2 separate regions of the Homo sapiens genome follow, and region 1 is linked to region 2. Evidence: fine-mapped expression QTL. A gene starts in region 2. The other region holds a variant in brackets. All regions are shown on one strand. Distances are between the middles of the regions.

Region 1 (10,724 bases), 100 kb after region 2:
AAGGCAAATTTATATTGTTATAAGCAGCTTCTATTAGGTGGAGATAAATATATTTCTGAATTGCCTGAGACCAGCCTTCCTGTGCCTCAGAACAAGTGTTATGCATATGGTTGGAAGATTTTTCTAAGAAATAGATTCAGAATAAAGAATCAACTCACTGTGCCCAGATTTACATAAACAGTGGTGAATAATTTGTAAATATTGGGAAATATATAGGCAGCATAAAGTTTTTGTGTCAAGTAGCTTCTAAGAAAGCCCAAATAAGATCTAGTATTGCAAAGGATCTTGATACTGCACCAGCCCACCCTTTGCTTCAGGAGAGGAGCTTTTTGTGCTTATGAGGTAGTAATCATTACCCACCAGGGCTTCAGCAACCGGGGATAGATTGAATGCCCACCATGTGCCAAGCTCTTTATCGCCTCATTTAATTTTCACTTTTTTTAAATAGTGGCTATTATCCTTATTTTACAGACCAAAAAACTTTTATAAAGAAGTCTCAGAGAGATTATCTTTTCTAAAATTAACAGTATTCTTAGGCAAGCAGAATCTGGCCCCAAAGATAGTTTCCAATACTGTTGTCAAATGTTGTTAATGATTGCTGTCAACTCAAAGAAATGTAAAAAGGTTGAGGTGTGTATCTTTGAGTCTGACTTAGTTATCCTACAAACCTGTATTCAGATGCTGCCATTTACCTTTTGGTACTATCTGAATTCTAGGAGGAAACTTGGGAAGAAGGGAACCTCCTCCCGAGGATTAACTTTGCAAATTTAAGCCTATGTAATGATAGAGAATAGAATACTCCACTCTTGTTACGTTTTGAAGTTGATATAAGCCGGCTGAAGTGAGCTTATTGTTTCATTTAATCATTTAATCCTTGATAACATCACAAATGCCGCCCCTTGGTTTTCTCTTTGGCTTTTTCTAACCTGTCTTCCCAGAGTTCAACTTTCTTTTGGCCATCCCATGTTAAGGTACAAAGGACCTTACTTTTTTTTTCTTTATCAACTAATCCCCGCAGAGAAGATAGTTGGTAAAATCTCATGGGTGTGTATATGTTCATTCATTCATTCTTTTCTTTCTTCCTCTACCTATCCATCCATCCATTCCTGCATTTTTTGAATATTTAATGTTGGTATTATGAATACTTCGAAGCTGTTAAGTGCTATGTGATAGAATTTTGGCCTAGAGACTACACGGATTCTTTAGTATAAGAGTCATTTTGGGTTGTAGGGGAGGGGGTTTGTCCAGTACCATGTAGGCCCCACTCCATTTGAAGTCTATCCCTGAATGTTTGCCTTATGAACACAGTGCATTACTTTTTTGTAGAAGGACCTACTAGATGAGTACTAATGGCTTTTACCTGGCTGTAATGGCTATTGGGTTTGCTTTGATGGCCAGGACTTTTGGAGGAAACATCCTTCACTGGACAGTAGCATCAGCATCTTGTGCACCTCCAGTCAATGCCCATAATGTTGCTTCAGCTGTTAGCCTCCTTCTCCAGAGACAATTGAAAGAAATGCTTTTAAAATAGAGGAATAGTTCCACATTATAGTTTGTTGCAGGAGAAATCTATATTTTGTACTTCCCTCTGCTTTTGTCCATTGCTAGAATTATTGCAAGCCAAGGTATTTCTTCTCATACATAGTAAAAGAATCTTTTTTAAGCTCAAGTATTTTTAGATACTAATCTGAATCAGAGTTGTATGCCAGTGCACCATGGAACTTGTCTTTCTTTTCCCATAAAGATAAAAAGCTCTGTTTACTTGTATTAATACCATTTATCAAGTACAGTGCCTGTTATGTATCAGACACTAGTATTAGATGGTTTACATATATTTAGAGAAACAGTGTAGCATAATGTTTAAGAACAAGTTCTCTGTTCTTGTGAGTTCAAATCCTTGCTCTATCTTTTACTGGCAATATGACCTTACATAAGTTATCTAACCTCTCTGTGCCTCGGTAATAGGCATCTGGTAGATTAAATGCATTAATCTATGGAAAGTACTTTGAGCTATCTCTAATATCTGATGATAGCTCAATAAATGTTTTTTCTAATGCCTCAGTAGCCTACAAGATAGGTATTGTTATCCCCATTTTAAGATAAGGAAATTGAGATTCTGAAATTAAGGAATATATCCAAAGTCACACTGCTAATGAATGGTGGCACTGGGTTTAAACTCTGGCTTGTTAGGCCACAAGACCCTTCAAGACTTCTCAGCATAGAAGTTTGGGTTATTTTTCTCTTTTCTCAGTGCATCTTTTGAGACTGTTGAGGAAGACCTGGTTTATGACGTAGTGCTGAGTTCATCAATGATTTCTGATTTGTAAACATCACATTTGTATTTGTAAATATCTTCTGAAAGGAAGTAGCAAAACTCTACAAAAGAACAGAGAGTTATGGAAATTTAGTCTATGGAGTCACATTTTTATAACTGTATATCAAGGGAACGATTTGACATAATATTAAACCCTTAACACAAGTGTGTGTAACTCTAATCTGAAGAGGGAAATGCCTAATTAGGTAGAGGCCAAAACAGCCTAATGTTTTTCCTGGCAACCATCCTTCCTCTCTCAAGGAGGGCTCCCCACCCTCTCTGCATTGGAGAAGATGCAGCATGTTTATTTTATGGCATGGAAGGAGACTCAAGAAAGCATTTGTAACTATTCTTCACTGTGTTGCATAATATACCTTGTCAAGTTTACACTGTAGGTTGGGGTCCTCTTTGATAAATGGAAAACTAATGGTGGGTCTTGAAGTAATACTAGTAGAACTTCAAGTTGATTACTGACACCGTCTGCCAGCAGGAACTCCCAAGGAACACTGAAACCTTCAAATGATTACACTCCCTCTCCTACTTTACTGCTGCACGTCTCCCCATACTCGCCCAGGACTCTTCTGCTGTTCTTTCAGTGTTAGGTGTCTTCAGTGTTAGGTTGTTCTTGGTCTCTACTTCTCACTGTAGTCTTCATGTCCCCAACCCCTATCCCACCTAACCAAGGCAATGCCTTCCTCCCCAGTAATTCCAGTAACCATTTCTCTGCTGGTGACTTCCAAAGCTAAATCCCCAGTTCAGATCTTTCTCTCATGCTCCAGGCCCAGCTCTCTCACTAACCACTGGACATCTCCATTTGGATGTCCCATAGATGCCTCAAAATCAATTAGTTTAAAACATCTCATTATCCCCTCTCTGCTGTATTATTTCCCTCCTTTCCCACCCAAATTTGCTTCCCACACTGCATCTAATGTATTCTCTACACTGCAGCCAGAGGGATCTTTCTATAAAATGCAAATCTGTCACTCTCCTATTTAAGATCTTTTAAAGGCTACTCTGGATCCTTAAGATAAAGCCCAAGTTTCTCAATATGAGTTACAAAGTCTTTTGTGATTAGACACCCCACTTTCCCTAACTTCTCCAGCCTTCTCTCTCACTACTCACCTCCCCTAACACACAGCATAGGCTCTGACCTACACTTATTGAGCTTCTTGCAATTTCTGGCATATATCCCCATTCTCTTTTGGCCTCCAGGCCTTTGCTCAGGCTGATCAATCTGCCTGAGCCCTCACCTCTACCAATCAAGCCTCTTTCCCTTGACTTATGTCTGCTTATACATTGGAGGTCTCAATTTAGATACTCCTTCTTCTGGAAGACCCCTCTGCCTGATTCCCTGTGTTTCTGGTAAACACAGGGAATGTGTTTCCTCTCTCTGGCTCTCCCATTACACTCTACTTTCCCATGTATTTGTGATTTTAATTGTTGGTCTTTTCCACTAAACTATAAATTCCCTGAAGGCAGGGTTTGTGTTTAGGTTGTTCAATATTGTATCCACAGTGGCTAGCCCATGGATGTATGGAAGCTGGAAAGATAGAAATAGTAATACTTCACAAAAACTTTGGAGATCCCTTTTGTAAGGCAACAATGTGCACTGTGTGTGTGTGTGTGTGTGTGTGTGTGTGTGTACTATAGATCAAATTTTTCCTTCTTGGTGTTTTGGGATGCTACTTGCTGCTACTATGGGTGAAGCCAATGGAAGGGAGTCTATGTTTGGAAAATTAGAAGACGGGAGGGCTGCTGGTGTCTAGAGTACTCTGGGAATGCTGTTTCTTTGACCAAAGTCTTGGGCCTTGCTGCTGTCCTGACTACCAGATGGCAAGCATATATGCCTCACAATGGGGCTGAGAAAGCAGTTACCTGTGTGGCAGAAGGGGAGGGATTTGTCCTTAATTTTTAGTGCAGAAGTAAAACACTTTGAACATGACCATCTAGTCCTCAGTATGAATAATTTCATATGATTTTTCCCCAAAGAGCAAGTTTAAAATTTTTTATTCTACATATGTAAGATGTACATTGTGGGTTTTAATATACACTGTGATACCTCAATCAAGCTAATTAACGTATCACCTCACATAGTTACCATTTTTGTGTGTGTGGTAAGAACACTGAAGATCTCTCAGCAAATTTCAAATAGACAGTACATTATTAAGTATGATCCACATGCTGTACATTAGATCTCCAGAATTTATTCATTTTAACTTTAAAGTTTGTATCCTTTGACTGAAATCTTCCATTTGCCTCGGCTCCCAGCCCCTGGCAACTACTGTTCTATTCTCTGTTTATTTCTATGAGTTCTGGCAACTACTGTTCTATTCTTCATTTATTTCTAAAGAGATTCCACATGTAAGTGAGTTTGTGCAGTATTTAGCTTTTTGTACCTAGCTTATTTCACTTAGCATAATGCCCTCTAAGTTCACTCATGTTGTCGCAAATGGCAAGATTTCTTTCTTCTGTAAACCTGAATTATATATATATGTATATACATAGATGACAGTTTATCCATTCTTCTGTCAGGTGGTTTCCGCATCTTGGCTATTGTGAATAATGCTGCAGTGAACATAGGGTGCAAATATCTCTTTGACATACTGTTTTCACTTTATTTTCCAGAAGTGGGATTGCAGGATCATGTGATAGTTTTATTTTTAGTTTTTTTGAACAGCCTCCATATTGTTTTCCCTAATGGCTGTACCAATTTATTGTCCCACATACAGTGCACGAGGGTTCCCTTTTCTCTACATCCTCACCAACACCTGTTATCATTTGAGTTTTTATATATCTGTTGGCTATTTGTATATCTTCTTGGAAAAACATCTATTCAGGTCCTTTGCCCATTTTTTTTATCAGGTTATTTGTGTTTTTGGCTATTGAGTTGTTGAGTTCCTTATATGTTTTTGGATACTAGTTCCCCATCAGATATATGGTTTGCAAATATTTTCTCCCATTTCATAGGTTCTTTCATTTTGCTGATTGTTTCCTTTGCTGTGCAGAAACTTTTTAATTTGATGTAATCTCACTTGTTTACTTTTGTTGCCTGTGCTTTTGGTGTTATATCCAAAAAGTCATTGTCAAAACTAATGTCAAGGGGCTTTTCTCCTATGTTTTCTAAGAGCAGGTGTTGATAATAGGAAGGAAACAACAGGAAATTTAAGGGCAGTAGGACCCTTAACTATTCAAGACTGTTTAAATGGTGTTTGTACTTAAAGTAAAAACTACCTGAGCATATTTTAACATATGCCTCAAGTCTGTAGCGTGGATCTGGATTGCAGATTCTCCAGTGCTCAATCATCCTATATTTGTGGGAAGAGAAGTCTGACATTTCCCAAAGGATTAAGTAATATTGTTTGATATGGAATAAAGTGCCATGTATATTGAGCTTCTTTAGGAGGATAGTTTTATTTATCTTTTTGGATTTCTGTCAAAATAAATGCAAGGGGAGGGAGGCCCAGTGCTCCACTGGTTCCTTGAACAGAGGTGAATTTACTGTGAAACAATGGCTCTTAAGCTTCAGGGGCTCCTGCTTGC[G/A]TGAGCTCTAGCCATGTATTTACAAGATCATTGTCATATTTACAGAAGTAAGACATTTTAAACATAATTGATGAATGCCATTGATTAAGACCACTGCCTCTTTTCACTCCCACTTCCCTTGATGTCGGGTGGTGCTGAAGTGGCTGTGGACAAAGAGAAGTTGAGTTGGGGATACATTTGGATTACAGGGATATATTCATGTTGTTCACAGTCACTTCTGTGTTGAGTTACTACTAGCTGTCCTGATTAGGAGTGGCTTCCAGGAATATTCTTATAGACTTCTGTGCTAACTCATCTGGCATCAGGACAGTACATCAATAACAAACTGAAACATCATAAGCTTTAGACTCTGAGAAACCTGGATCCACCTGCTCAATGAGCATAGTTCTTTGACTATCTAGAGTCTGTGCAAACCCGTGAACACCTCAATTTGGCATCCCAAGTAGAAGAGTGGTGATAGAGGATTCTTTGATCCTTTGATCTACTGCCCCACATGTTACTGTCCTGGCCAAGAGCAATGAAAGATCTATTGTTGGAAAACTTTTGGCCTGATTTTACACTATTATTTGAACTACAATCTAATTTAGAACATTTTAGAACATTAGAACATTTAGAACAAGGAGAAAATGTATATTTTTTTCAGTTGCTGTGTATCCTCTCTGCTTTTGTAGCTATGTCTGTATAGCAAAAAGAGAGTGAGATGACTTGACTCTTAGTCTGTATTAATTCCTAATTTAACCCTCCCTACAATCATTTGTTTAGTTCATTACAAAGAGTTACTCTTTCAGCCTATTATATTTGTTGTTGTTTTTATAAAATATTTTTAGTAGAAACAAAAATATTATATAAAAATATAAAAGCTTTCATAAATCCTTAATGTAGAAAACAGAAGTTTTTTAAAAAATAGAATCCACTAAGTTTGTTGTAAATTCTTACCTTTTTTGGCATACAGTATATGCATATTATGTTTAACTTAGTTAAAACATTTTATGACAAAAGTGGATCATATCCATATTGCTTTTAAACTTGTCTTTTTCACCTAACAGTATATCTTGGACATCTTTCTGTGTTCTTTTTAAAGGGCTGTCCAGCATTGGGTGGTGGGGGGAGTGGTCTTGTTAATACCATTTAGTCAATCAATTCCTTATATTTGGGTGTTTTCTGGTTTTGGTGTTTCTTTTCCTTTTTTTTTTTTTTTTAACTATAACAAATGATGCTATAATGAGCATTCTTGTTCATATATCTTTGCACACTTTGGGAGTTGTTTCCCCCGGTAATATAAATTTCTAGCCATGGATTGCAGGATCAAAAGATATTTACATTTAAAAACATTAACAGATGTTCTCAAATTGCCATCTAAATCATTGTACCAATTTATAGACTCGCCAATAATGTATGAGAGTGCACTCTTTCTCCACCCTTGCCAGCCCAGTATTATCAATCACTTTAATCTTTGCCAATCTTGAAAATAGTAGCTAAGGGTTTCTTAATTTTTATTTATTTAACAGTAAAGTTGGACATCTTCTCATACCTTCATATTATTATATTCTTCTGTGGCTTGCCTGTTCATATCCTTTGCCCATTTTGAAAAAAAATTGATTATTTTCTTACTTACTTGTAAAAGTTATTTGGGATTACTTGGGATATTAGCCCTCTGTCTTAGCATGATACTTGGTTACAAAGGACACTTACCATTGCATTATTTTAATATTTCTTACTTTTTCGTTGGATACCATATCATCACTGAACATACTGCATTTTAAACTCTTAAATTAAATTCTGCTATGAAAATCCCTTCAGTTATAGACTCAATGATGCTGCATGTGGGTTATTAATAGCAATAAAAGGAGATGTTTCATAGAGTTAAAACATTACAGAAGTGAGCATTAGTCAAAAATTTACTCAGAAGGTAAACTTGTTCTGTATTAGGGGAGGAAGTTGTCACTTTTCTTCCCTAAGCCAAGGAAGGAGCCTAAGTCGGAAGCAAAGTTTCCATTGCCAAGCTTACATAAGTTCTGTGATTAGAAATTAGTCCTTGTTATAGCCGAGTGCATATCCTGAATAGTTCATTTTTATGTTTCATGAATATACTGCTCAATATTAGGCTCTATATTTAATATTTATATCTAGAAAAGTTAGACAATTTTTTTTTTGAGACAGAGTTTTGCTCTTGTCACCCAGGCTGGAGTGAAATGGCGTGATCTCAGCTCACTGCAACCTCTGTCTCCAGGGTTCCAAGTGATTCTCCTGCCTCAGCCTCCCGAGTAGCTGGTATTACAGGCGCACGCCACCACACCCGGCTAATTTTTGTGTTATTAGTAGAGACGGGGTTTCACCATGTTGGCCAGGCTGGTCTCAAACTCCTGACCTCAAGTGATCCACCCACCTCAGCCTCCCAAAGTGCTAGGATTACAGGTGTGAGCCACTGCACTTGGCCAACAATTTTTAATTGTATAGGAAACTAGCATTTTTGAAGTACTTCTGAATTTAGCACCTAGGTCAAATTACGTTGGATATGTTTTCATGGAAACTGTTGTATTCTCTTATTTTGCATGGTTTGGCTCTTAATTGCTTATAATTCTGGTACATATTGAGTACAAGGAAAATATATTTTAAATATGCATAAGTTAGACTTGCTACAAACATTGAGATTAGAAGTTGCAAACTGACCACTAGGTCATATCTGCTCCACAGGCGTATCTCACATAGTTTGAGAACTATTTTGAACTAGTTGCTAAAGCTTAAAAATAGAGGAATTTCTCTTGAAAAGTGGAATTTTGGATAATAATGGATTTTATATATATATATATATGTTAGTCATGGACTGTCACTACATAGTAGCTATTATTTTTAGACAGAGTAAGTGCTCTCCAATTTGCCAGAGCTCCTGTCATTCTTTAATATATTACAGCTGGCCTACTTCACTCATGTACCTTATGTAGATTCCTCTTTCGTTATTTATAGGTATATATATACATAAAGGCAGCTATATAAAGAAATTTCTTAGTTTTTTCATTAATAAATTCAAGACATCCGAAGCTTCTTTGCTTTATTATTTTTCTGGTACATTCGTCTCCTTAAAAGGAGACATTAGAAGCAGTAAACATCCCAGAGATAGTAACTTTCTTCTTCAGAACTTTTTCCAACAAATCACTCCATTGGCTGATGAAAAAGAAGATGACTGAAAAGGTTTATACTTCCTGGAGTTCCACTATCTTGCGCTGTAATTTCTTTAGGTCTTTCTGTACTTTATATTTCTCTAAATCCATCTTTGTTTTCTGTATTTGTTGGAGGGAGCTGAGAGAGTCATGAATTGATTTAAATCCTGTAAGAGGGTAAAAGAATAGGTACACTTAAACAATGCATTAGAGCTTTTTTTTAAAAAAGTTGCTAATCGGCAGTCCTGCCATAATTGATTATCATTTAATTCCAAGCGCATTAAATTCTATGAAGACCAGCCTAAAATTGTACATAATATATTTCTTGTATGTCATGAAGATCCATTCACAATAGTGTTTCAACTTATATCTAGTTATCTGGTTTCATTGTGAAATTTATTTTTCTCCTCCTCAAATATATTGCATAATTCTATATTGCAAGAGAGAAATTTAAAATATTTTATTCTTTCTGAATGCTTTGATGAGAGACTTGTGTGATTTTTTTTCAGTCTTGTTACCAAATTGAAGGTAAAGATCACAGATGAGATTTTAAATCTTCTCTGAAAGTAGCCTATTTGAGGGACCTAACAGCGGCCCCCTGCTGCCCTCCTCCCTCCTAGCACTTTGTATCTCTCTTATGCATGTCTAGTCACTCCTGACCACAGACCTATCAAACCTCAAGGCCTTAGGGCACAACCCATTTGTTATTCACTGGGGCCTTTCACAGAGTCGTTTCTCAACACATTTTTATTAAAGGCATAAAGCAGCAAACCATTAATTTGAAGTTCCCCCTTTTTAGAACTCCTCCTCATTAGTAAAATGAAAGAACTTGCAGGTGGTAAATTCCTTTTCAGTTCACCCTGAAGTTTTACTAATGGAATAAGTAAAATTAAACCTCTGATAGTTAAACAGAAAGCAGAGCCTTTAAAAGAAGGGCCAGTTAAGTTTGGGACATGATTCCTGGCCAGATAATTCATTATTTTGATATGACGGTGGGAGGGGTATATTGTGAGGGTTGAATTTCCAGGCAGCAAATTCTACTTATATGCCAGGAACATCTGGCAGATTGAGACCCTCATGTCCTCCCAAGGCACCTCCAAGGTATCTCTATACAGGACCAAATTTGGTAGAATTTACACATGAATTTTTCTGAGATCTAGAAGACAAAAGAAAAAAAATTACTTGGGACTTTCTCTAGGAAAGAAACTCTTCTGAGTCCTGGTAATTCCCTCAGAATTATGACTCAAGGCAGATGGCTGCACCACAGCACCTATTCCATGTCCTTCCCTTTGAGAAATTAGATGAGCCTTTCAAATTAATCCTCTTTGATGTTAGCTCAGCTTGACACTGCTGCCATTAGCCTCTTCAAAATAAAAGCAGTCATTATACTGGACTCTGCTAATTCATCCCTCTTTCTCACTTCTAAAGGTCAGGTCTCCAGTCTGACATCTGTCCAAGCTCATTACTTGTAGTTCAATGAGAAGGGCATTTGATTTAGGCTCTTAATTTCATAACATACCCACAAGTCACGTCTTGGGTATGTCCAAGGATTTTCCAAGTCTGACAATTCCATGAATTAGTAAAAATTCCATGATCTTAGTAAAAAAAAAAAAAAAAAAAAATTCACACCAATGGCAGGCCTGTGACATTGCCAAGTGAAGAAAGTTAATTTATTTATATGCCTTCCAGTATAATACTCATATTCTATAGGA
Region 2 (10,724 bases):
TTTACATTTGATTAATCAATCAATTTACTTAAAGTTTTTTTTTGTGTGTTTGTGTATGGTGCAAGGCAGGGTCCAACTTCATTCATATTTTTTTTTTCCAGCACCATTTGTTTAAAAGATCATTCTTTCCCTATTAAATGGTCTTGGCACCCTTGTTAAAAAATCAATTTACTATAAATATGAGAGTTTATTTCTGGACTTTAGATCCTATTCCATTGATCTGTATGTCACCTATCCTTAAGCCAATAACATACTACATTGATTGGTGTAGTTAAGATATAAGCTTTAAAATTGGGAGGTGTATGTCTTTCAACTTTGTTCTTTTTATTTCAAGATTTATTTTTGGCTATTCTGGGTCCCTTGAATTACCATATGAATTTTAGGATGGGTTTTTCCATCTCTGCAGAAAAAAAAAAAGGTTCTAGGGATTTTGACAGGCATTGAATTGAATCTGTAGATCATTTTGGTGAGTACTGCTATATTAACAATATTAAATCTTCTGATCCATGAAAAGGGGATGTCTGTTCATTTATTTAAATGTTCTTTTATTTCTTTCAACAATGTTTTGTAGTTTTCGGAGTATAAGAACTATATTTCCTTGATTAGATTTATTTTAAGTATTTCATCCATTCTGATGTTACTTTAAATGGAACTGTTTTCTTAATTTGACTATAAGTGTGTTAATCAATTAAGTATATAAAATACAATTTATTTTTGTACACTGATCTGGTATACAGCCTTACTAATTTATTAGTTCAATAGTTTTGTAGTGGAGCCGTAGAATCCTACATACAAGATTACTGCAAGTATAGATACTTTTACTTCTTCCTTTCCAATGTGAATGCCTTTTATTTAATCTTTTTTCTAATTCTGTGGCTAGAACCCCCAGTACAATGCTGTATAGCAGTGGTGAGAACACACATCCTTGTCTTCTTCCTGATCTTAGTCAGAAAACTGATTTTTTTTTTCTTTTAACCATTCAGTGTAAAGTTCTGGCTTTTTTTGTAGATGCCTTTTAGTTCCCTTCTATTTCTAGCCAGTTGAATGCATAAGGATTGTCAAATCTTCTCAAATGCTTTTTCTGCATCTATTGAGATGATCACATGGGTTTTGTCCTTTATTCAGTCAACATGATGTATTACATTAATTGATTTTCAGATATTAAACTCACTGTACATTTTGGGGACAAATTCCACTTGGTAATGGTGAATAATCCTTCTTACATACTAATGAATTTGGTTTCCTAGTACATTTGTCCCTTGGTATCTGCAGGGGATTGTTTCCAGGACCTCCCAAGGATACCAAATCTTTGCGGGCTCAAGTCCCACAGTCAGCCCTGTGGAACCCATGGATAGGAAAAGTCAAGTTCTGTGAGTTCCACATCCCATAAATACCATATATTTTTATCTGAGATTGGTGGAATCTGCGGATTCAGAACCTGTGAATATGGAGGGCCAAATCCATTTTGTTGAGGATCTTTGCTCTTATATTCCTAAGGGATACTGGTCTGTGGGTTTCTTTCCTTGTGATGTATTCGTGGCTTTGGAATCAGGCATGAACTGTTTTTTTGTTTTTGTTTTTTGAGATGGAGTCTTGCTCTTTTGTCCATGCTGGAGTGCAATGGCACGTCTCGGCTCACTGCAACCTCTGCCTCCTGGGTTCAAGCAATTCTCCCTGCCTCAGCCTCCCGAGTAGCTGGGATTACAGGTGCCTGCCACCACGCCTGGCTAATTTTTGTATTTTTAGTAGAGACAGGGTTTCGCCATGTTGGCCAGGCTGGTCTCGAACTCCTGATCTCAGGTGATCCACCCACCTCGGTCTCCCAAAGTGCTGGGATTACAGGTGTGAGCCACCGCGCCCGGCCAAACTGGTCTTATAGTTTGGAAGTGTTCTCTCCTAATTTTTGGAAGAGTAGATGAAGAATTAGTATTAATTATTCTTTAAGTATTTGGTAGAATTTATCAGTGAAACCGTTTGGGTCTGTGCTTCTCTTTGTTGGTAGTTTTAAAATTACCAGTTTACCCTCTTTACTTCTTATAGGTCTATTCAGATTGCCTATTTCTTCTTGAGTCAGTTTCAGTAGTTTCTGCCTTCCTAGCAATTTGTCCATTTCATTTATCTAATTTGATGACATACAGTTGTTGTATGTAAGTATTCCCTTGTAATTCTTTTATTTCTTAAGATAATGTAACCATTCTCTTTCATGATTTTAGTCATCTAGCTCTTTTGTCTTTTTTCTTGTTCAGTATAGCTAAGGTTTGTCAATTTTGCTGATTTTGTCTAAGAACCAATTTTTGGTCTCATTGATTTTCTCTACTATTTTTCCATCCTCTGTTTCTTTAATTTCTGCCCTAATCCTTATTATTTCCTCCATTCTGCTTGCTTTGCAGAAGCTTGTTTGGTCTTCTCAGCTTGTCTCTCCTGGTATGGAACCTCTGTCCTACTAGAGAGCTAGGGCCAGGGCAATTAGGGCCCTAGGATTCTCAACTTTCCGCACTTGGCATAAAGCCTCTGTCCTGTAAGTGGGGGCTGACTGAAGTAAGGGAGCCCTCAACTTCTCAGCTGCATTCATTAGGAATTTAACCTCTCCAACTTGGATTAGGAGAAGATGAGAAATCTCACAGCCTGTCCCTTTTGGTGAGATACCATAACTGGTGATTGGGAGCCGAGGGGGAGTAGTCCTATCTTCTTGGCCACACCCACCTGAGTGAAACCTCTGTCAAAACTATAGTTCACTGCCACAGACCCTTCTTGCTATTCTTACCAAGTTTTCATAGATTTTCTTGAATAAATGTTTCTTCATTTGGTGTATGACCTTAGGACAGTTTCCAGACACTTTAAGTGTTTCAAATATTTAATAGTTTTTATGTATAGTTTAAAAAAGAGTTTTCATTTGGTTTGCTTGTTTTCTTGGGAGTTGATCTACAAAGCTCTTGCGTTGTTATCCTGAAAGTAAAACCAATTTGCTATTTTCTTCCTACAATTATTATCCAGCTTAACTGCTCTATCTTAGCCTGCAGAGTTTTAGAAATGATAAATCACAGTGTCAAGAATCTAACAGCATACCAAACTGGTATAATCATAGAGAGAGGAATTATTTTAAGTTTAAAGACCAACATTTTTACTATATAGTTGAATATACCTAAAACAAAAACTTCAAAGAAACTGTAAGCTGCACTCAGGACTAGCATTATTTCTAGTAATATTACAGTCTTATTTTCAAACACATTGATATATACATATTATATGTTTGGATAAAGCAAATAAGTAATTGCATTAATGCATTTAGACCAAAATATTTGGCATAAAACAAAAAAGATATAAGTATAAAAATCAAAGAATAAACTTGTAATCTTAAATTTGAATGGAAAGTATCAGTATGATCTCACAATTTATTTTTCTCATTCTAAAATATTATATACTTTCTAGATTTGTCCACTGGAAAGGTCTAGATGCAATGAACACCCTAACACTCAGACTGTGGTCTCTAAATACAAGATGGGACAGGAAATATGTATTGTGGACATGGAACTCTGTTAAAGCAAGCTGTCAAATACTAATGGGGATGGGTCAAAAGGACTCAGAACCACCTGAAGGGGCTTCCACTGGCCAAAGATAGGACAGTTTGAATATTAACAAGTATGTGAATGCAAAAATTTTTTTTATTTTTTATTTTTTAAAAATTTTTTTATTTTTATTTTTATTTTTTTTTCGAGACGGACTCTCGCTCCGTCGCCCAGGCTGGAGTGCAGTGGTGCGATATCAGGTCACTGCAAGCTCCGCCTCCCAGGTTCACGCCATTCTCCTGCTTCAGCCTCCCGAGTAGCTGGGACTACAGGCGCCCGAAACCACGCCCGGCTAATTTTTTTGTATTTTTAGTAGAGACGGGGTTTCACTGTGTTAGCCAGGATGGTCTTGATCTCTTGACCTCGTGATCCGCCCACCTCGGCCTCCCAAAGTGCTGGGATTACAGGCGTGAGCCACCGCGCCCGGCCGTGAATGCAAAAAATTTAAGCACAAATATAGAAAAATCTATGCATTCATACTACACTAAAAAAAATAACAAACCTATATATCTCAGTCATCTTTGGAAGTTTCTGGGATGTTGTGATCCACATTCGGATTCCCTTTTAGGAATGAACAATTGCCTCTGCTGAAGACAGCTGCTTTGCCCAACACCATGCCCCATTCTAGGAGCAGCCCACAACCAGTGGCCATCCAACATGCAGGTGGAAAGGTCTGTTCTCCTCACTCCTATTGGAAAGCAGCTCTGAAGCACCATACTAGTTTGAGAACTGTCATTCATAAGATGGCAACAAAATTCAGCTTCTCCTCTGCACAATCCTGCTTCCTTCATTTGCCTTTGATTACAAGAGCACTCTGTAATAAAATGCCATCTAGTCAATTTCCAGTACTGCCCATTCTCTAAGTTTAAATCACAAAGATAACTTTAAGTAATATTTTCAAAAAATCCCATGGGCACATCCAGACTATGTAATTTTAATCATCAGGAATCTACGAGAAAGGAAATACAACATATGATTACAAACACTCTTTAGTGCCAGATATGCTTAACACCAACATCTGTGTGACCACAGTAACACCGAGTGATAATAAACTAATATTACAATTAATAACCAAACAATTGTCTAAGCAGCACTTTTTAAAACATGGATCATCCTAAAAGCATCGCGTAAGGTTGACAGTAGCACCTTTGGCTTGGGAAAGTTTCAAAAACTGTTTAAGTTTGGGATTCAGCCACATTACCAACACACACACATACACACAATTTCTCTGGAATACGGGGGAGTGAATCAAGTTATACCAACGATTCCATTTGAATCAGCACTAACAGGATTATCACAGACCTGGGTAATAAAAATAAACTTTCTTCACTTCTCACCCAAACATGAATTCCTGCAAACTTGAGGTGAACTGGAAAATGACTTTTGGAAAGCTAACACGCTTTTATGGAGATGCAGAATGTTATTTTACCACACAATTAAACCAAACGGGGGTATGGACTGAAAGTTCATTAGTCGTGGTAAAATAATTTAGCGAATCGAGGTCAGTATTAAAAAAAAAAGATCTGCAAAGATGTTTTCAGTGTTTCACTATTGTTTTACATGTTTGCATAGGTATGTGGTGTACGTGTGAGTACACGGGGCCTCACATAAAATGTATTTCTTTCTTTGCATCGGGGTAAAAGGTGTTTGAAAATGTCTCAGGTTCTGCTCCCCAAAGCCTGCAGCACAGGCGGCGGCGGTGAGGTCGCCGATCCCCAGCGGGGCGCCCCTCCCCTGCCTCGCGGTACTTACGAAGGAGTCGCTCACGACCAGCACCACATTGGGCGCTTTGGCTGCTCTCCGCCTCTGCTCCCCTGCTCCGGGGGCCAGTACCGCCAGCGCCAAGGCTGCGACCACCGACACCCACAGCAGTAGCATCGCCGGTAGCGGTTCTGAGAGCCTGCCGCCGGGCCAGCCGCCTCCCTCTGGCGTTCTCTCCCTAGCAGAGCAGGGCAGGGACAGCGAACAACTCCCAAAGCTTGCAGTTTGGTTGCTTGATAGTAACGCCGAGCTTCACCCGCAGAACTACAACTCCTATCAGGCGGAGAGCGCGCACATGCGCAACAGAGAAATTCCCGCTTTTACCCACGTTAAGACCTTTTAATCAAATACCGAGCAAATCAGAACCCAGCCACTTCCAGTCACGTGAATGAGTCCTGGGAAAGGCGCATGCGCTCTCATTGCAGCCTCGGCGTTTGTAGAAGAGGAGCATCTGCTCCAGGTGGGTTTGGATTTCTGTCGGTTTTGCACAAGGGATCCTAAAGGCGATTGAAATGGTACTTAGAGAAAGAAAGGATCGGGGCCGGGGCTGTTCATTTTGGGCCGCGCAAGCGTGGCTGAGTGTTCGGCGAGAGCGTGAACTGGGCGGCGATGAGGTGGCGGCGCGGCTGTCACTTAAGTTGAATAGGGCGGTGCCTTGTGGGGCCTCTGGGTGGACCGCCTCAGGTGCGCCGTGAATGCCTTAGACCCCCCCGAATACCTTCCCAGGGAAATCTCTAGCCTGTCTCATCTTATTGCTTCTCTTACCCCGTGCAGTCAGGATTTACTGTGCTCCCATGGGGCGAGGAGCGGGGCCTAGTAAGAAGTTTCAGGCTGTAGGCAGGGGAAAGCATAGCTGTTCCTTGCCTTCAGAGAGCAAAGGAGATAAGCGAAACTGGAGGGGGAAATGGGCTGTGTGACATGTTCAGTTAGTTGACGTAGGTTCAGAATATCATTGTTTTGCTGCAGAATAAAAACCGGTCTCTTTTGACTGTTGAATTCCTTTGGAGAGTTCTGGAAGAAGCAGATTTCTGTCCCAAAGCCAAATTCCAATTTCTGTATCTAGTTTCGGGTATATAATTTGCACATCACACTAGTAGTTTTAATATTCTGACAGTTAAAAGAGGAGTTATACTACTTACTTAAGTCAACTGAATACTAATATCTGGCAGGTTTTTTTTTGCCTAAGATAATTGTAGTAAGGAACAGATTTGTTTATTTAATACTCACATGGCACTTAGGTGCTGAGCGTTATACTAAGCATTTACTGAGCATCTGCTGCGTGCCACGTACTTTTATATGGAATATTTTCTATAATCCTCACTTTCACCATATTGCAGATAGGAAAACAGGCTTAGAGAGGTTAAATGACTGGCCTGAGTTTACACAGGGAGCCAGTCAGAGCACGACTGAAAATTGAAGAGTCTGTGCCGTAACTCACTAAATGCTCTGTCTGCAGTTAGTTTATCTGTTAGTGTAGCAGAATTGTTACTCAAGCAGCATGATAAAGATCTGCGGGAGCATGCAAAAACGTAAACAGTGTTGGGCGCGGTGGCTCACGCCTGTAATCCCAGCACTTTGGGAAGCCGAGACGGGCGGATCACCGAAGGTTAGGGGTTCGAGACCAGCCTGGCCAGCATGGTGAAACCCCGTCTCTACGAAAAATACGCAAAATACTGGGCGTGGTGGCGGGCGCCTGTAATCCCAGCTACTAGGGAGGCTGAGGCAGGAGAATCACTTGAACCCAGGAGGTGGAGGTTGCAGTGAGCTGAGATCGCACCTTTGCACTCCGCCTGGGCAACAAGAGCAAAACTCCATCTCAAAAAAAAAACAAAAACAAAAAAACCCCTAAACAATAGTCTCAGTTTACATGAGTTTAGATTTCAGGGAAGCAAAACCAAGCATACATGAAATAATAATACAGCACGGAAGGTAATACAAGTGGGCTCTCTCATAAAAACAAATTTGTTTTGAGTTAATTTGGAATGTAGAACGTATTTTCTACCATAGTGACAATATTGACTGACATTTAAATTCATAAAAGTTATATTTAATTTTGTGTCTGATTCCATAAACTGTGCTTACTCTCTACAGCCTTGTTTCCACAGGACATGTACTCTGATGACAGGCTTACAAGAATACATCTTTTTCTTCTTTCTCCCCTTGGCAGTGTCAATAGGAGCAGGTGCTGCAGTGATTTGGAGCAAGACAGATATTTTAGAGCCTTAGAGACGTTGTGCTGGAAGAATCTAAGAGGCTTCTAGTCCTACTTCCCATCTGACATTCAGTTTATCCTAAAACATTCCTGCTGAGTGGATTGTCCAGCCTGTGCTTTTTCATCTCCAGTGATGGGAAACACTTCCATTGAGTACCTCATTCCACATTTATATAGGTCTCATTAAAAGTTCCTATTTTAAGTTGAAGTTAATCTTCCTCTATTTTTAACCATTCATTAGTGCATTTTTCTTCACTTTTACATGGATAATCTCTCCCTTTCAACAGTCCTTCCCCCAACTCCCTCGCCACCATTTATTTATTTTTCCTAGTCCCCAGTTTCTTCAGCTAGTTCTCATAATTTCAGGTTTCCTCATTGTTTTGATTACTCTTTTGTGAACGTACAACATTTTTGCTAATCAGTAATTCTATGCTATCAGAAAAGGTACTCAAGAGAATGTAACCATTTGCCTCACTGCCTACTTCCCTCCCGCCATTTTTCACTCCTGCATGCTCTCCTCTAGAATACTGAGTTCCGAAAGCCCTCTTTGGAAAGTGTGGGTCACAGATGCTTCTGTGGCTTGTTTTTCCCCAGGCGTGTGCTCAAAGTGTGGCTCAATAAACATCTACTGATTGAGACACTTCCCTCAGTCACTCATTTTTTTGTTAACACTGGTAAGCCTTGGAAGCTGGAAGATCATTAGCTATTTATTGAATATGTATTATCCAGTAAGTGTTGGGTATATAAGAAGCTCTGAAAATATAAGACTTACGTCTAAGAATTTATTGAATTGGGAGACATAATTGAATTATGTCTATATAGGATAATAAAAATAATATTTGTTAAGTTGCAGTTGAGTAGCTCAGTTTGGAGGTTTGGAGGAGGGAGTGATCCCTGTTGTAGGCTGTACTCTAGTATTCATGTAGTGTAGTAACTAATATGAAGAGGGTACTCATGTTTGATGATAGCTGTCTTGAGGAATACAGATGCTTCTTATGGTGGGTTACACCATGATAAACCCATTTTAACTTGAAAATATTGTACGTCAAAATGCATTTAATATGCTGATAAGCCCATCGTAAAGTCAAAAAATTGTAAGTTCAACCATTTGTAAGTCAGGGGCCGTTTGTATAGGTAAGAAGTTTACTTCTTGAGAGAGCAAGGAAGAAGGAGGTTGCAGGACGGTTGGGGATTTGAATGTGTAGGGAAAATTTTTAACACTGAGTTATCACACTAGTTGTTTTAGGAATGGCAAGTAGCAAAGTTGATTGAGAGAATAATAGTAGATAGGACATTATTAGTATAGATTATGTCCAAGTACTCCATCTATGTGTGTATCAGGTAAGTGATGTAATTCTTACTTTACCAGTGAGGAAATGGGCTTTGAGTAATGAAGTCATGTACCCAAGGCCTAATGGCTTTGATCCTAGATCCATTTGATTTCCTAAGCTCACTCTCAACTAGGGTAAGCCTTGGTGGGTGGATATGACAGAGTAAAGGGGCTGACAGGATCTAGGGTACTTTGTAAGAACAGAGTTGAAGTGACTGAGTGATAAAACTAGATTGGGTGAGGAGGGCAGCCAAGTGTTAGCAGGGCTAAAGAAGCCAGTGAAATAGTCAAGTTTGTACTTTTTTTTCTTTTTTAACTATTATCTTACTTTCCTAAACATTGTTTGGATTACCATACTTTCTTTTCTTACCAGTAAGACTTTCTACTGTTGGAGTGACACTTCTATTTCGGTAGATCACTAATGAGTGTTTTGGTTAGGGAAACTTTTCATTCCTTGTTCATCCCTACCTGCCTCACCTAAACATTGTTTACTTCCTAGTTCTGAAGTAGCATGTTTTTTTTCACTTTATTCAGTTTTTCAAAACCACTTCCATTCTCTGCAGGGACCATTCTAGATTGTTTTTTGTTTGACAGAAGCCACTTCAGGGATGCTATCAAAATATCCTTAGAATTTGTAGATGTGTAGTTGTGTTACTATTTTTAATGACTATTTAAATGCATTGTTAACATTAAAAAAATTTCTCTGTTTTCATTAGATTACAAACTAATATAATTGTATTATATTATACTCCTTATGTTCCTTAGAGAAAAGTTCTATTCTAATATAATTAGGCTGCAAATTGGGTGTAAATAAGTACCCTTAGTTGTCTGTAGATGTCCTTGATTCAAAGCAAAAATGGCACAGAAATAGTAGATATTCTTCTTTGGCTCTATTTTTTTATATTGACATCAGTGTATTTTGGGTTTCTGAAATGGTTTCTCAAAATCCTTCTGATCTCTTGTAGAAGTTTCCTTTTATCATCTGAGGCCCAGGAATATAGTTTAGACCAATTCAGAAGTTTGGAGATTAAGAATAGTGTCTCTCTGGGAAAGAATAAAAATACTAAAAATTATACATAATTATTTCTCATGTTTTAAATTATGAATTATGAAAATTGATGCGTTAAAAAGTTTAGAAGGTTTTGGGTTGTGGGTGTCATCCTTTTTATATGATTGTCTCATACTTGTTTTTGTTTAATTTAGATGGAAAATGGGTAAGGAACAATCAAATTCAATTCGGGAAGAATATAGAGGTGGTAATAATTGGTAAAAGGTAAGTGTCTACAATGCTAAATAATAAATTGGAATCTATTTTTACTTAATGATTGTTTTTACTCATTCCTTTCAGAAGAAAGATTTAATGGCATAGTTTTTTTTTTTTTTTTAATGTCAGACTATGGGTCATTACAAAATACCTTTTGTTATTAGATTTAAAGATATCGTTTTTTTTCCTTTCTGTAATTAGCTTCCGTTGTCATTATCATTACTATTTATTATTATTGTTGTTTTAGCTTTGTGGAATCTTTGTATGAGCATATTGGAATATTATTTAAGGTTTCATAGCCTCAACTGGGGACATATATATCATACCTATATATGTTGTCCTTGAGGAATATCATTGCCTTTATGGCATGACTGTCACTTTCTAACTCTTTTTAAGTGCAGTTGTTGCCACTTTTTATTCTTGATTTATGTTGGATAAAAATATTTTGGGTTGGTAGTAGAAAAACTTGAGTGAAAACGTACAAAATGAATACTCTTATTTAAAAAAAGACAGTTGAGATTGAGGAGAATAGTGGGAGGAGAGGTATAAGGCGGAAAGAATTAATAGGGAGTTATATTGTGGAAGAATATT

What was found.
Region 1: its variant is fine-mapped to the expression of SKIC3 in whole blood (INTERVAL, PIP 0.91).

What each region holds. Positions count from the first base shown.
Region 1 is chr5:95,448,604-95,459,327 of GRCh38, reverse strand. FAM81B (family with sequence similarity 81 member B) reads right to left here. Exons shown (of 10, transcript NM_152548.3): 10 at 8,887-9,179. The coding sequence ends at 9,046. Among named protein-coding and RNA genes, the nearest start is that of FAM81B, 63 kb to the right of the region's middle. The variant G/A (reference allele first, on the strand shown) is at 5,855.
Region 2 is chr5:95,549,999-95,560,722 of GRCh38, reverse strand. SKIC3 (SKI3 subunit of superkiller complex) reads left to right here and starts at 5,746. Exons shown (of 43, transcript NM_014639.4): 1 at 5,746-5,787; 2 at 10,073-10,142. ARSK (arylsulfatase family member K) reads right to left here and starts at 5,622. Exons shown (of 8, transcript NM_198150.3): 1 at 5,319-5,622. The coding sequence starts at 5,444.